3 separate regions of the Homo sapiens genome follow, and regions 1 and 2 are each linked to region 3. The links come from fine-mapping of genetic effects on gene expression. A gene starts in region 3. Each other region holds a variant in brackets. All regions are shown on one strand. Distances are from middle to middle.

Region 1 (4,184 bases), 26 kb after region 3:
TTTATTTTTGAGACAGGGTACTCTGTCGCCCGAGATGAAGTGCAGTGGTGCAATCTTGGCTCACTACAGCCTCACCTCCCAGGCTCAAGCAATCCTCCTGCTTCAGCCTCCCAAGGAGCTGGGATCACAGGGTGCACCACCACTCCCAGCTAATTTTTTTATATTTTGTAGAGATAAGGGTCTCACCATTTTGCCCAGGCTGGTCTTGAACTCCTGAGCTCAAGCAATCCTCCTGCCTCAGCCTCCCAAAGTGCTGGGATCACAAGCGTGAGCCACTGTGTCGGCCTAGATTTTTACTAGGGATTTACTAGATGTTTACTAGGGAAAGGCTAACAGATTTAAACATTGGCCAATTTCTGGCTCAAGTGTTGCTGGAGGCTTCTGGGTTTCAAGATCTATTCTCCCTCCTTTCCAAGGTCTGGGCTCCTTTCCCTTCAAGACCCGGAAGGAACTGCAGAGTTGGAAGGCAGAGAATGAAGCCTTCACCCTGGCTGACCTGAAGCAACTGCCGGAGCTGAACCCACCAGTGCTGATGCCCAGAGGGAATGTGGGGACTCCCCTGCGGGTCTTTTTGGAGTTGATCCGGGCCTGCCGCCTACCCCCTCGGATCATCACCCAGCTGCAGCTCCAGTTCCCCAAGACAGGTTCCTCCCGGCGCTACGGCAATGTGCCTTTTGAGTATGAGGACTCAGAGACTGTGGAGCAGGAAGAGCTTGTGTATACAGCAGAGGGTGAAGAAATACCCCAAGGAACCTACCTGGCAGATATACCAGCCAGCCCCTGTGGAGAGCCTGAGGAAGAAGTGGGGAAGGAAGAGGAAGAAGAGTCTCACTCAGATGAGGTGAGTACAGTGTGCTACCCTGTCCTTGCTGGCAGCTGAAAGAGGCCGAAGGCATTAATAATACCACTCTTCAATTGTCTATTACAAGGGTTCTTAACCTGGGGTCCTCAGGAGGGTTCCAAGGAGTCCAAGAAGGAATGTAAAACTATATTTGCATGTGTGTTTCTGTATTTCTGTAGGGAGATGGTCCAGAGCTTTTACCAGAAGATTCGTAAGTGGGTCTTATTTTTCATTCCCTTGGAAGGGATATATAAGGATGGTTCCTTTTTTTTTTTTTTTGAGACGGAGTCTTGCTCTGTTGTCCAGGCTGGAGTGCAGTGGCACGATCTCGGCTCACTGCAAGCTCTGCCTCCTGGGTTCACGCCATTCTCCTGCCTCAGCCTCCCAAGTAGCTGGGACTACAGGCGGCCACCACCATACCCGGCTAATTTTTTGTATTTTTAGTAGAGACGGGGTTTCACTGTGTTAGCCAGGATGGTCTCAATCTCCTGACCTCGTGACCCGCCTGCCTCAGTCTCCCAAAGTGCTGGGATTATAGGCGTGAGCCACTGCGCCTGGCCAGGATGGTTCCTCTTTATTCATTTTTTTCTTTTTTTTTTTGAGACAGAGTCTCACTGTGTCACCCAGGCTGGAGTGAAGTGGTGCGATCTCGGCTCACTGCAACCTCCACCTCCTGGGTTTAAGTGATTCTCCTGCCTCAGCCTCCCGAGTAAGCTGGGACTTCAGGCATGTGCCACCACGCCCGGCTAATTTTTTTTTTTTTTTTTATTTTTAGTAGAGACAGG[G/A]TTTCACCGTGTTAACCAGGATAGTCTCAATTTCCTGACCTCGTGACCCACCTGCCTCGGCCTGCCAAAGTGCTGGGATTACAGGCATGACCCACTGCGCCAGGCCCATTTTTTCTTTTTTAAAAATTATTTCCAGCCGGGCACAGAAGCTCTTGAACCCAGGAGGCGGAGGTTGCAGTGAGCTGAGAAAAAAAAAAAAAATTCCACATGAAAGACCAGATAAGGAGAGTTCATTTTCATAGATGAAAATGTGCTGACCAAAACATGTGCAGTGACTTGTCTAAGATCATCTCAGGAAATAGAGGTAGAGCTGGGATATGAACCCAGTTCTTGCTTCTTCTCTAACCTGTGCGTGCTGTCATAATGTGGCTGAACAGTCATCTCTATTTTCTGACCTAGAGTCAGCAGATTGAACAGTAGCCTCCACTCTCACTTCATTAGTGACATAGACATTTCTTTGGTTCCTTTCTCCAAACTTGGTTGCACATCCATAAAATCAAGTAAGGTGTGATTTGTTGGGAAAACTTTTTTAAAAATGTGTACTCCGGGTAAAAAGTAATTCACCCATGTTTCAAAGCTTCCAGCCAGCTGGGTGCAGTGGCTCACACCTGTAATCCCAGCACTTTGGGAGGCCAAGATGGGTGGATCATTTGAGGTCAGGAGTTCGAGACCAGCCTGGCCAACATGGTGAAACCCCACCTTTACTAAAAATACAAAAATTAGCCAGGCGTGGTGCCTGTAGTCCTAGCTACTGGGAGGCTGAGGCAGGAGAATCACTTGAAGCCAGGAGGTGGAGGTTGCAGTGAGCTGAGATCGCACCACTGCACTCCAGCCTGGGCGATAGAGTGAGACTCTGTCTCAAAAAAAAAAAAGCTCCCAGCCAAGATTGCTAAGACATCTGGACCACATCCCTAGTGTGGTACCATCCTGACTTCCCCTCTCCTCTTCTCTCCCCTTCCTTCCTTCCTTTCCTTTTTTTTTTTTTTTTTTTTTAAGCAGGCTCTGGTTCTATTGTCCTGGCTGGAATGCAGTAGTGCAATCTCAGCTCACTGCAACCTCCAACTCCCTGGGCTCAAGCCATCCTCACCTCAGCTTCCCTAGTAGCTAGGACTACACTCACACATCACCACACTTGGCTAATTTTTGTATTTTTTGTAGAGATAGGGTTTTGACTTGTTGCCTAGACTGGTCTTGAACCTCTGAGCTCAAGGGATCCTCCCACCTTGGCCTCCCAAAGTGCTGGGATTACAGGCGTGAGCCACTGCGTCTGGCCCCATCCTGACTTTTCTTCAGCACTTGAAGGCCTACAGGGTTTCAAGCTAGGAGTCATTGTATCATTCCACAAGTCCCGTCAAGCCAAGGGCTAGTGTAGGATTCCAAAGGCATTCTAAGACCCATTTCCTGCCCTCAAAGAGCCTAAAATCTCCCTGAAGAGAAAGAACCAGCATCTGGAGATGCTGCACCTGGATGTGGCCACCCGGGTTTGCATTGCTGGCTCTGCTGCTCCCTCAGTGTACTCTTTTGGACAAAGAACTTTTTACTCCCCTGAACCTAGGTTTTGTCATCTGTAGAATGGGAATAATGGTACTTATCTCATAGGGTTGTTGCAGTGGTTAAAGGAGCTAAGCTATGGGAAGGGCCTGACACACCAGAGACAATAAGCATTATTGTCCATTCTTTCTTTGTGATATGACATAAAAAGGCCTAACCAGTGTGTACTGATTAGCATTGGGAGTTCAGAGACTGGTATGAGAGCTGTGGGCCTAAATGTGGGGGGCTTCATGTAGGCTGTATGACTTGAGGGATGAGGAGGATTTAATCAAGTGGAGAAGAGAAGGGTGTGGGAGAGGAAAGTGGGTATTTCAGGCAGGGAACAACATGGCCAAACGCGCAGAGGTGAGTCAGGCTTGTGGGGACAGGAGCAAACTGTTGAGAATTATCGGGCTGGAGACGTGTTGGTCAGGGGCCAAATATGTGCTGCTTCTTGGAGAAATCTGAAGGAATGGCGCTGAGGCTAGCCACACATGCCTCCTGTGCCCTGAGCTTCCCTCCCTCGGGGCATGAGGTCAGGAAGCTCAGGCAAATCACCTCTCCCTGCCTTTTAGGACGATGACCGGGGTGAGGAATGGGAACGGCATGAAGCGCTGCATGAGGACGTGACCGGGCAGGAGCGGACCACTGAGCAGCTCTTTGAGGAGGAGATTGAGCTCAAGTGGGAGAAGGGTGGCTCTGGCCTGGTGTTTTATACTGATGCCCAGTTCTGGCAGGAGGAAGAAGGAGGTAATGCTGGTACCCAGGCAAAGGCAGGGGTGACCCCTGCTGCATTCTTTTGGGGTTCCCTGTTCCACACGGTAGATTCTGTAGTGGTGAGCCCAAACAAAAGGCTAGGGAACAGGCTGACCTCTATTGTATACGAGAGACCAATCATCCTTTTTAAGAGTGGGGATCAGTGAGATGGAGAGAAAATGCCCCCCGCCCCGCCCCCAACAAATTCTGAATAACCCTCCCAGAGGAAGGATCTTAAAATACAAACAAGCTGGGTGCAATGGCTCATGCCT
Region 2 (4,184 bases), 140 kb after region 3:
TGACCATACTGGCCTGCTGTACTTTACCAGAACTTTATGCTACTTCTTTTTGCTGTGGGATAAAAGGCATTCATTGGCAGTTTCCAAGATGCTGGGTGACATTTACATCCATCCTGACACTTGGGGTGACACCAGTCAGGTCTCATATACCAAAAGCATCCTTTTTGGCCTCTGCCCGATCACTTGAAGATGCCCATCCACCCAAGGACAAAGACTCTGCCTTGCCTCCAACTGCAGTACCCAAACACTCATCATTTAAAGCCCATGGTCACTAGGTATTTTTCACCATTCCTTCAGTGTTTGCCTTTCAGTGGTTAGAAAACCTTGACCCCACTGAGAGGCCTAGTGGGAAGGCCTTAGCCACTTGGGGGTGGCAGTGGCTGCAAGGCAAAAGAGCCAATGAGGTTGAGAGTATTGTTTAGGCTGGACTTGGCTGCTCTCCAGCTATGAAAGAAGGTTAAGGTCATTTGGGGGGTGGGGAGGGAGGAGCCTGGGAAAAGAACTACTGGCCACACCCCTGGGTTCTCTGCTGGCTAGGTTCTATTTACTTCTCAAAAGCAAATTACTCACAGCTCACTGGCCAGCAGTTCTCTTGGCCATGGTAACTCCAGTCAGAAACTGGAGACCAGGCTAGGCTCTCCCTGCATTGCAGGAGAGCAGATGAAAGGAACCCAGGAAACCGAACTCCTAGGTAATGCTCCACACACAGCCCAGATATGCAATTTCTAGACTAGCAAACGGAGCTCGAGGCCTAGAACAAAAATAGCCATTAGCAATATTGCTTACCAAAATTGTAGATATGAAAAGCTTCCCATTTACCTTTTTCTAGAAGAATCCTAGGAACGCATCTTGGTTGACAAAGGTTTTCCTCTCTCAATTGAGAAATACTAATTATTCAAATCCTGTTCCTGACCCAAATATTAACAGCCACACTTAGTCTGATGAACACTTGATTGAAATTCTGAGGACAATTTTACCTCGTGCTAAAGACAATAAAAACAAATCTTGCTTGCTGAGCTCCACAGCTAGATCCCTTACTCCTGGGTTGGGTTCTCATCCAGAAAGGAGGTAGTGTGGTATATTAAGAAAAGCATGATCCTTGGAGTCAGGTGGAACTTGCTTGGTGTATGAACTTAAAAAGCCTTTCACTTTTCTTAGCCTCTTTCTTCAACTGTAAAATGGGAGCCACATACTGACTTCACAGGCACAGGATTGTTGTAGGATTGTGATGTGCTATGTCCAGAATATAAGTAGGTACACAATAGAAAACTGTTGTTTCTTGTTTCAAATTTCACTTCTAAGTGTCCACAATGATAGCATTTTTTCTCTTTCTGCTTCTGATTTCTCCTGAGGAACTTGAGGCTTCTCTATTGTTTCCCTAAGGAAGGGGGTGAACAGAGAAACTATATATTGTGACATTAGCCTCATAAAAGCAACTGCATCTAGCCAACATCGACAGTATCATTCAACTACTACTTAAGTAGATGCTATGTGCCAGTCTATGTGTTAGCACCAGGATGCAGCAGTGAACAAAACACCCCTCCCACCACCCTCAGTTTACATTTCAGTGGAAGGTGACAGGTAAGTACAACACACAACAGGCCAGACAGTAACAAGTGCCACAGGAAAAATAAGGCAGACAAGGGAAACATAGTGGGGGGCAGAGATTGCTATTCTAAGTAAGGTGACCATGAAAAGCCTTACTTATATATTTG[G/A]ACAAAGACTTGAAGCAGTCGAGGACTTGAGCCATGCAGTTATTTGGTGAGAGAGTATAAAGTACAAAGACTCCAAGGTGGAAACATCTCTATACAGTGGGGTGAGCAACGGGCAAGACAGATGGTGCAGGAAAGGTAGAGGTAAGCTAGATAACTCAGGGCCTTGTAGGCCACTTTTTAAGAGTCTGGATTTTTACTTACTGAGTCAGAAGCACTGAAGGCGTTTGATCTGACTTACCTTTTATAGGGGTCCTTTTGGTTGCTCTGTTGAGAATAGGTTCAACCAGGCAAAGCAGAAGCAGGGAGGCCAATTTGGAGGTATTTCAAGAATCCAAGATATGACAGTATCTTGAACTACAGTAGTGTGGGATTGAGGATTATTTTATGAAGAGTGCTAACAGATTGGATGTGGAAGTGAAAGAAGTCAAGGATTTTTTTAGCCAAGTGATAGAATGGAGTTGCCATTTACTAAAAGGAAAACACAAACAAAAAAACCAAAACTATGGGAGAAGCAGGTTTCTAGTGGGGGAAGACAGGACATTTTAGCTTTGGCATGTTCAAAGTAAACTTCCAAGCAGGGATGACAAGAAAGGTGGCTGAATGCTCTAGTCTGGAGTCAGGGAAAAGAGCCAGTCCAGAGATATTATAAGTGATTAAGTTGGAGATTGCCTCCAGATAAATGGTTGTCTTATTTTGGAATATAGTAAATAAATGACAGGGTCCAGGAATGCCACTATTTAGGGGAGATCTCACACTAAGGGAGGTTTGCAAAAACAGGACTATCCCCCTGCCCCCCGACAAAAGGTCAAGTTTTAGTTTGAAAACAATAAAAAGCTTCACAAAAGTCTTACCAAGATTTAATGTACATTTATTCTTAACACGTGGAACATATAGTATAAAGATTTCATACTGAATAAATGATATTCATTAAGCCAAAAAAGGAAAAAAAGGAGGAATTTACATCAAGTTTTAGCTACATTGTTGAAATACAAATATGCAGATTTTATCACTGAAAAAATCTCAATTGTGTTTCTTCATCAGAACTTCAACTGAACCTAGAACTTTTTCACACCTCGATTAGAAAGAAAACAAAACAAAACAAAAACCCAGAAAAAAATAAACTATAAGTTGATTGGCTGCTGAGACAGCAAGGACTTTTTACAGAGACCTGTACAGCATCGCACCAAGAGGGGCGATATCTGGCAAGAGATTAAATAGCTGTGTCTCGCTTTGTGCAGGTCACCAACTTGTTAACTCGTCATACTATAAAGGGGTAGCTGGGAGGAGGACCAAACTGTGGGGATCCAAGGGTATGTGCAATGTACAACGTCATATATATACACACGTGGCAGCGTAGCCGCTGCAGCTAAAGGTTAAAACCAGTTCTAAGAGGTGATCTCAGGGTTATTCATACAATCAAGGAGGAGAGAAAGAGGTCAGGGTGTTGTAGGTTCACACATGATACTTTGGGGGAAAAGCCTTTTTTTTTTTTCTCCTCAACGTTTAACTAAAAACATTTTTAAAAACTACAGCTTGCTGCTGACCCAGCGTTTTCTGTTTCCATGTGAGACATTATTATTACAGTATGTTTACAGTATCAGGTGTACAGTACAGTACATGAAAGGGTCTACACTCTACTGCACAGGCCTCTCCAGTGAACAGGGTCTGTTCACAACTGCGAACTTCTTGGCTCCTGCAAGATTGTGAATGTACAACAATAAACCACACACAGTTCAGCAGTCACCTTTTTTGTCCTTCAGAATTTTTTTTTGTATTTTTTTTTTTTTTTTTTACCATTAAAAACAGTTATGAAATGTGGCATCCCGTTGATGCAAGGACTGGGAAAGCCATTTTTATTTTATTTTTTTTCCCCAAACTCACTGTAAACAACAGTAACTTTGGTTAAAATAAAAAAAGTCTTCTATGTAGGCAGAGCTTTGTCTTTTCAAAGAGGGTGGGGTAGGGTCCTGAGGGGAGTAAGGTGAGGACAAGGAACAGAAAGGCGTGAGGTGATGGAGGGAGGGGAGGTGGAAGGAGGAGAGAGAAACAGGAGAGACTTTTTCCCAAGGGAGAAGCTGGACAGCACAGGGTAAACTGGATTCTGAGGTGGTTTTGCATAAATAAAGGGCAACAGTCAGTTTCTAAGTTCTCCACACACGCACACACACACGGGGGGGGGAGGTGTCCCACGGCTGTCATGACTGGCCAATCAAAAACAGTACATCACAAATGACTTGTGAAACCAATGAGTTCATCAACGGTGATACCGAGATGTCCAACAGCCGTGATTCGTACAGAGTAAACTCTGAGTGGTTCTCGTCCACCTTGGCCAAGGCAAGCAGCGCGCGGGCAGCCCGCCGCATCATGTCCACACTAGTTGGCTCAAAGGGTGGGTTCTGCATGTGGAGGAGGCTGGCCTGGCTCTGCTGGAACTGTGTGGCGGCAAGGCTGTCCTCTAGGAAGCCCAGG
Region 3 (4,184 bases):
CTTCCTTCCCTTCCCCAATTCCTCACCTTTGGCATTTCGCTTCTGCTGAAAGTTACTATTATGCCAAAGAAAGGCCAGGTGAGCTTTTCTTCTGAAGAGACAGAGCCGCCCAAAGGACAGTGGTTTCCAACACTTACCTTCTCTGCCATCCCTTCTTCTCCTCCAATGAAAAAGTCTGTTTTGCGTCGAAGGAAGCTGAAGAAGGTGTTCACAAGCTGAAAGAGGGGGAGAAGATTAAAGTAGTAGAGCTGCATTTGGGAGCCCTTCAACTGCACACAAGTCAACTTGTTTTGTCTAGGAGGGAACTTGGGACTTGACTATTTTTCCTCTGAGCTTCCCAACTGAGGAGATTATCTCCCCAGCAGGTTCTCTTAGTCACTTCCACCATGAAGCAGATTTCTCATATCCTGTGTGTGTGTGCGCCTTTCACTTTCCTTGTGATGCTAGAAGCAGCCTAAGCGTATGGAACACTCCTCTGCATCCAGGGCATGAAAAGCCTGGGCCCAGCTTTCCTCTCCAGAAAGTAAAAAGCCCATCAAGACACTGGCTCACACCTATAATCCCAGTACTTCAGGAGGCTCAGGTGGGCGGGTCACTTGAGGTCAGGAGTTCAAGACCAGCCTGGCCAACATGGTGAAACCCCGTCTCTACTAAAAACACAAAAATTAGCTAGATTACAGGTGGTGGGCACCTGTAATCCCAGCTACTTGGGAGGCTGAGGCAGAGAATCACTTGAACCCGGGAAGCAGAGGTTGCAGTGAGCCAAGATCGTGCCACCGCACTCCAGCCTGGGTGAGAGACTCTTGTCTAAACAAAAAAAAAGACACTGGCTAAGTTACCGGGTCAAAGCAAGAAGGAGGAGAGCAAATGAAGCCACTTCAAAGGAGGATAAGATGGATTAATTCTGGCTGGAGTACAAGTGTAGCCAACGGTTTGAGTATCAGATGGACATATATTACCTTTTGACTTTGCAGAAGTTTCTTAACTCTGTACAACAGGAATAAGATGCAGTACCTATTTCTAGGGACCTGGTGAGGATCATGAGGTCAAGGAGGTGAGGCCTTTAGCAATGTATGGCACAGAGCAAGAGACCCACTGGCAGAGGGTAAACACCTTACAAATAGGAACCATGAACCATGGCTTAGTCTGTCTGCCACCTGCAATGCTGGGCACCAGATATGGCTAAAGGTACATAATCAGTAAAATTCTTGCTGAATGAAACAATCTAGTGGTGACTCAAGGTCAGCACACACAAACCCTTTATTTGCCCAAGAGTGGGTCTAAATCTGATTAAATCTGATGCTAGAACATATCTCAATGGTTTCCGTTCTTGCTTCTAGACAGTTTTTCAATTTGCTCAAAAATGAACTCGCTCCCAAATCCAGTTTTGTGCGAACAGTTTAGAGGAATGGAGACAGGAAGGCTTTTCACACTTGCAAATGAGAAACACTCTCCCCACCACAAAGGGCTTAGAAGTCCTTGGTCACCAGACACCTAGGTTACATAGGAATAGAAAGTTCAATGGAAACCTACCTCCAGTAAGACACAATCAGCCATGGACTCTGGGAAGCACACTGACCTGTCTAGGTGAGAACCATGTTGCATGATCTAGGCAAATCCTTGCCACTTCTCTGGCTCTGAGAATGAGAGTTCTGATCCTGACAGACTTTTCTACCGTTAACTTTGTGTTTGTTCCAAAAAAACCAACTCCAGAATCTGTAACAGTTGGCCCTTATTGTCGAGTGTGGGACACACATCAATCACACGACAAATACTTGTTGAATGAAAAAGCCTTATTACTGAGAACTTACGGTTCTTAACTACTCTCTGGAAACCGGTATTCGCAGCTGTCTCACAGATAAGGAAACTCAGGCTTGGAGAGATGTAAAGGTTCCAAGTTGGTAGGTGGTGGAAACTAATCGTGAACACAGGCCTCCTATTCCCCCATTCAAGGCCTAACAAGACCACGTGCTAACATCAGCCCGCTCCCCTACCACACACATTCGACGGCTCGCCCCAAGCCTTGGTGGATCCAAATCACGATATTTGCGACGGTTCTTACTAAGGGATGCTCCTTGGAAGCCGCCATCAAAGTGGAAACGGGGGTGGGGGCATATGTGAAACTAAAGGGGGATCCTAAGCTCAGGGATGCGATAATTTGCTACTACTGAGGGGCGCCGGGGGCCCGGGACTGATGCGAACCGGGTGAGACCTGCTGGCGGGTGGCCAGGCCGGAAGCTGGGCGCAGTGAGAATGTAGGGGCATCCCAGAAGCCCGCGAGCCGCTGGGGTGGGTCTCAGCCCTCGAAGGCAGAGAAGGGCGGAAGGAGCGTGGCCAAGGCCGCCGGGTGGGCCGACGCCGCGCGGGCCGTTACCTCCTGCACGCCGCCCTCGTGCTGCTGAGCCATGGCCAGCAACATGCCGTCGAACCGCTCCTCCTCCTGCTCTCCGCCCATCGCGCCGGCTCCGATCCACGTCCCGGAGCTCTGCACTCTAGTCCCGCGCTCTCTACGCTCCTGCGGGTCGCGCCGGGCCCAACGACTCTAGTCGTCCGCCTTCCGCAGCGGAGCCGGAAACACGCACGCGCGCGGCTGCCCAGGCCCGCCTCCACCTCCTCTCTTCCCGCCTTCCTCCCGGTTTGCGGCCATTGACCGTGCGGCAAGCAACCCGCTTCGCCGACCATTGGTCGACATTCGGAGCCAATCAACAAGCGCGTCCACGAAGCGGTAGGCGGAGCCGTGGGCCCGAGAGTTTGGCATGAGTTGCTATGGTCACCCGATGCCGTGGAGACTTCTAGAAAGCCCTGGACTCAAATCTGGCAGGGTTGGAAGTTAAAAAGGGACAAGTTTTGCCCCTCTCCCTTGCTAGCGACCCCCCCAGCTTGTAGAGCAGTGAAGCTGAAAGTAGCCTTACTCATCTCTTCCAATCCTAGAAGGGACTTACCACAGGACAGCCTCCTCCTCATCGACCTCACTGCGTACTTGACTAGGGCCAGCTTCATGGGAGTACAAATTGCAGTCGCACAGCACCCAGGCTTAGAAAGGCTCCACGCTTGATTTCATGGCCTTCTGTTATAGTCTTGAAATTCTTAATAATTTTGGAATAAGGAGACCCACATTTTCATTTTGCACTGGGCCCAGGAAATTATGACAGGTGCTGAAATTGACCTTCACTTCTGTTAATGCGGGGACAGGACCCAGCCATCCAAGCTAATCCCTCCACTTGTGCAATGAATCTCATCATCTTAGTCTTTTCAGGAACTCTATCCCTGTTAATTATCCCTTTTTTTAGCTTATGCATCACAAATATCTTTCTTCTTCCCTTCAATTTACAAACACGCTTTAATATCTTTTTGTTTGTTTTTAGAGATGGGGTTCTTGCATTGTCACCCAAGCTGGAGTGCAGTGGCACCATCTTGGCTTACGGCAGCCTTGAACTCCTGGACTCAAGCCATCTTCCCCACTTCAGCCTCCAGAGTAGCTGGGACTACAGGCTCACATCACCACGCCCTGCTGTTTTTTTTTTTTTGTTTTTTGTTTTTTGTTTTTTGGTAGAGATGGAGTCTGTGTTGCCCAGGCTAAGTCTCAAACCCTGGTCTCAAGCACTCCTCCTGCCTCAGCCTCTCAAAGTGCTGGGATTACAGGTGTGAGCCACCATGCCCAGCCCTGTTTTTATATTATTATTCCATGGCCCCACTTTCTTCTGCTGCTACCTCTCCAATTTTCAGCTCTCATTTGCAGCAAACTTGTTTGCTTGTTTTTCTACTCCCTCACCTCCCATCTCTCTACAGTATATTCTAGTCTATCTATTCTTCTTTTTTTTTTTAGACCAAGTCTCACTCTGTTGCCCAGGCTGGAGTGCAGTGACACGATCTCAGCTCACTGCAACCTCTGCCTCCCAGGTTTAAGTGATTCTCAGCCTCCCAAGTAGCTGGGATTACAGGCACCACTACGCCTAACTAATTTTTTTTTGTATTTTTAGTAGAGGGGTTTTCACCATGTTGGCCAGGCTCGTTTCAAACTCCTGACCTCAAGTGATCCACCTGCCTCGGCCTCGCAACGCGCTAGGATTACAGGCATGAGCCACTGCGCCCGGCCTGTTCTAGTCTATTTTTTAAAGGCTCTGATATGGTTACAGTGCTACATATTGCCAAAGCCAATGAACCACTATTATCTTACTCAACTT

Alleles and levels. Positions count from the first base shown, and alleles are read on the strand shown. Sizes are in standard deviations (SD) of each study's normalised expression.
As copies of G replace A in region 1, the expression in skeletal muscle of the gene that starts at base 2,561 in region 3 goes up (small effect, 0.35 SD a copy in GTEx).
As copies of A replace G in region 2, the expression in fibroblasts of the gene that starts at base 2,561 in region 3 goes down (small effect, 0.20 SD a copy in GTEx).

The links. PIP is the estimated chance that this variant, and not a neighbour inherited with it, causes the effect. A credible set is the group of variants that fine-mapping cannot tell apart.
Region 1: its variant is the best candidate, but not a certain one, in a credible set for the expression of NUDC in skeletal muscle (GTEx, PIP 0.50).
Region 2: its variant is the best candidate, but not a certain one, in a credible set for the expression of NUDC in fibroblasts (GTEx, PIP 0.64).

Annotation. Positions count from the first base shown.
Region 1 is chr1:26,893,958-26,898,141 of GRCh38, reverse strand. It overlaps GPATCH3 (G-patch domain containing 3), which reads left to right. Exons shown (of 7, transcript NM_022078.3): 2 at 417-841; 3 at 3,732-3,906. Among named protein-coding and RNA genes, the nearest start is that of GPATCH3, 4.4 kb to the left of the region's middle. The variant G/A (reference allele first, on the strand shown) is at 1,627.
Region 2 is chr1:26,780,483-26,784,666 of GRCh38, reverse strand. It overlaps ARID1A (AT-rich interaction domain 1A), which reads right to left. Exons shown (of 20, transcript NM_006015.6): 20 at 2,563-4,184. The coding sequence ends at 3,911. Among named protein-coding and RNA genes, the nearest start is that of PIGV, 5.4 kb to the left of the region's middle. The variant G/A (reference allele first, on the strand shown) is at 1,716.
Region 3 is chr1:26,920,120-26,924,303 of GRCh38, reverse strand. NUDC (nuclear distribution C, dynein complex regulator) reads right to left here and starts at 2,561. Exons shown (of 9, transcript NM_006600.4): 1 at 2,375-2,561; 2 at 138-215. The coding sequence starts at 2,455. RefSeq lists enhancers at 1,753-2,294, 2,415-2,534 and a silencer at 2,665-2,814.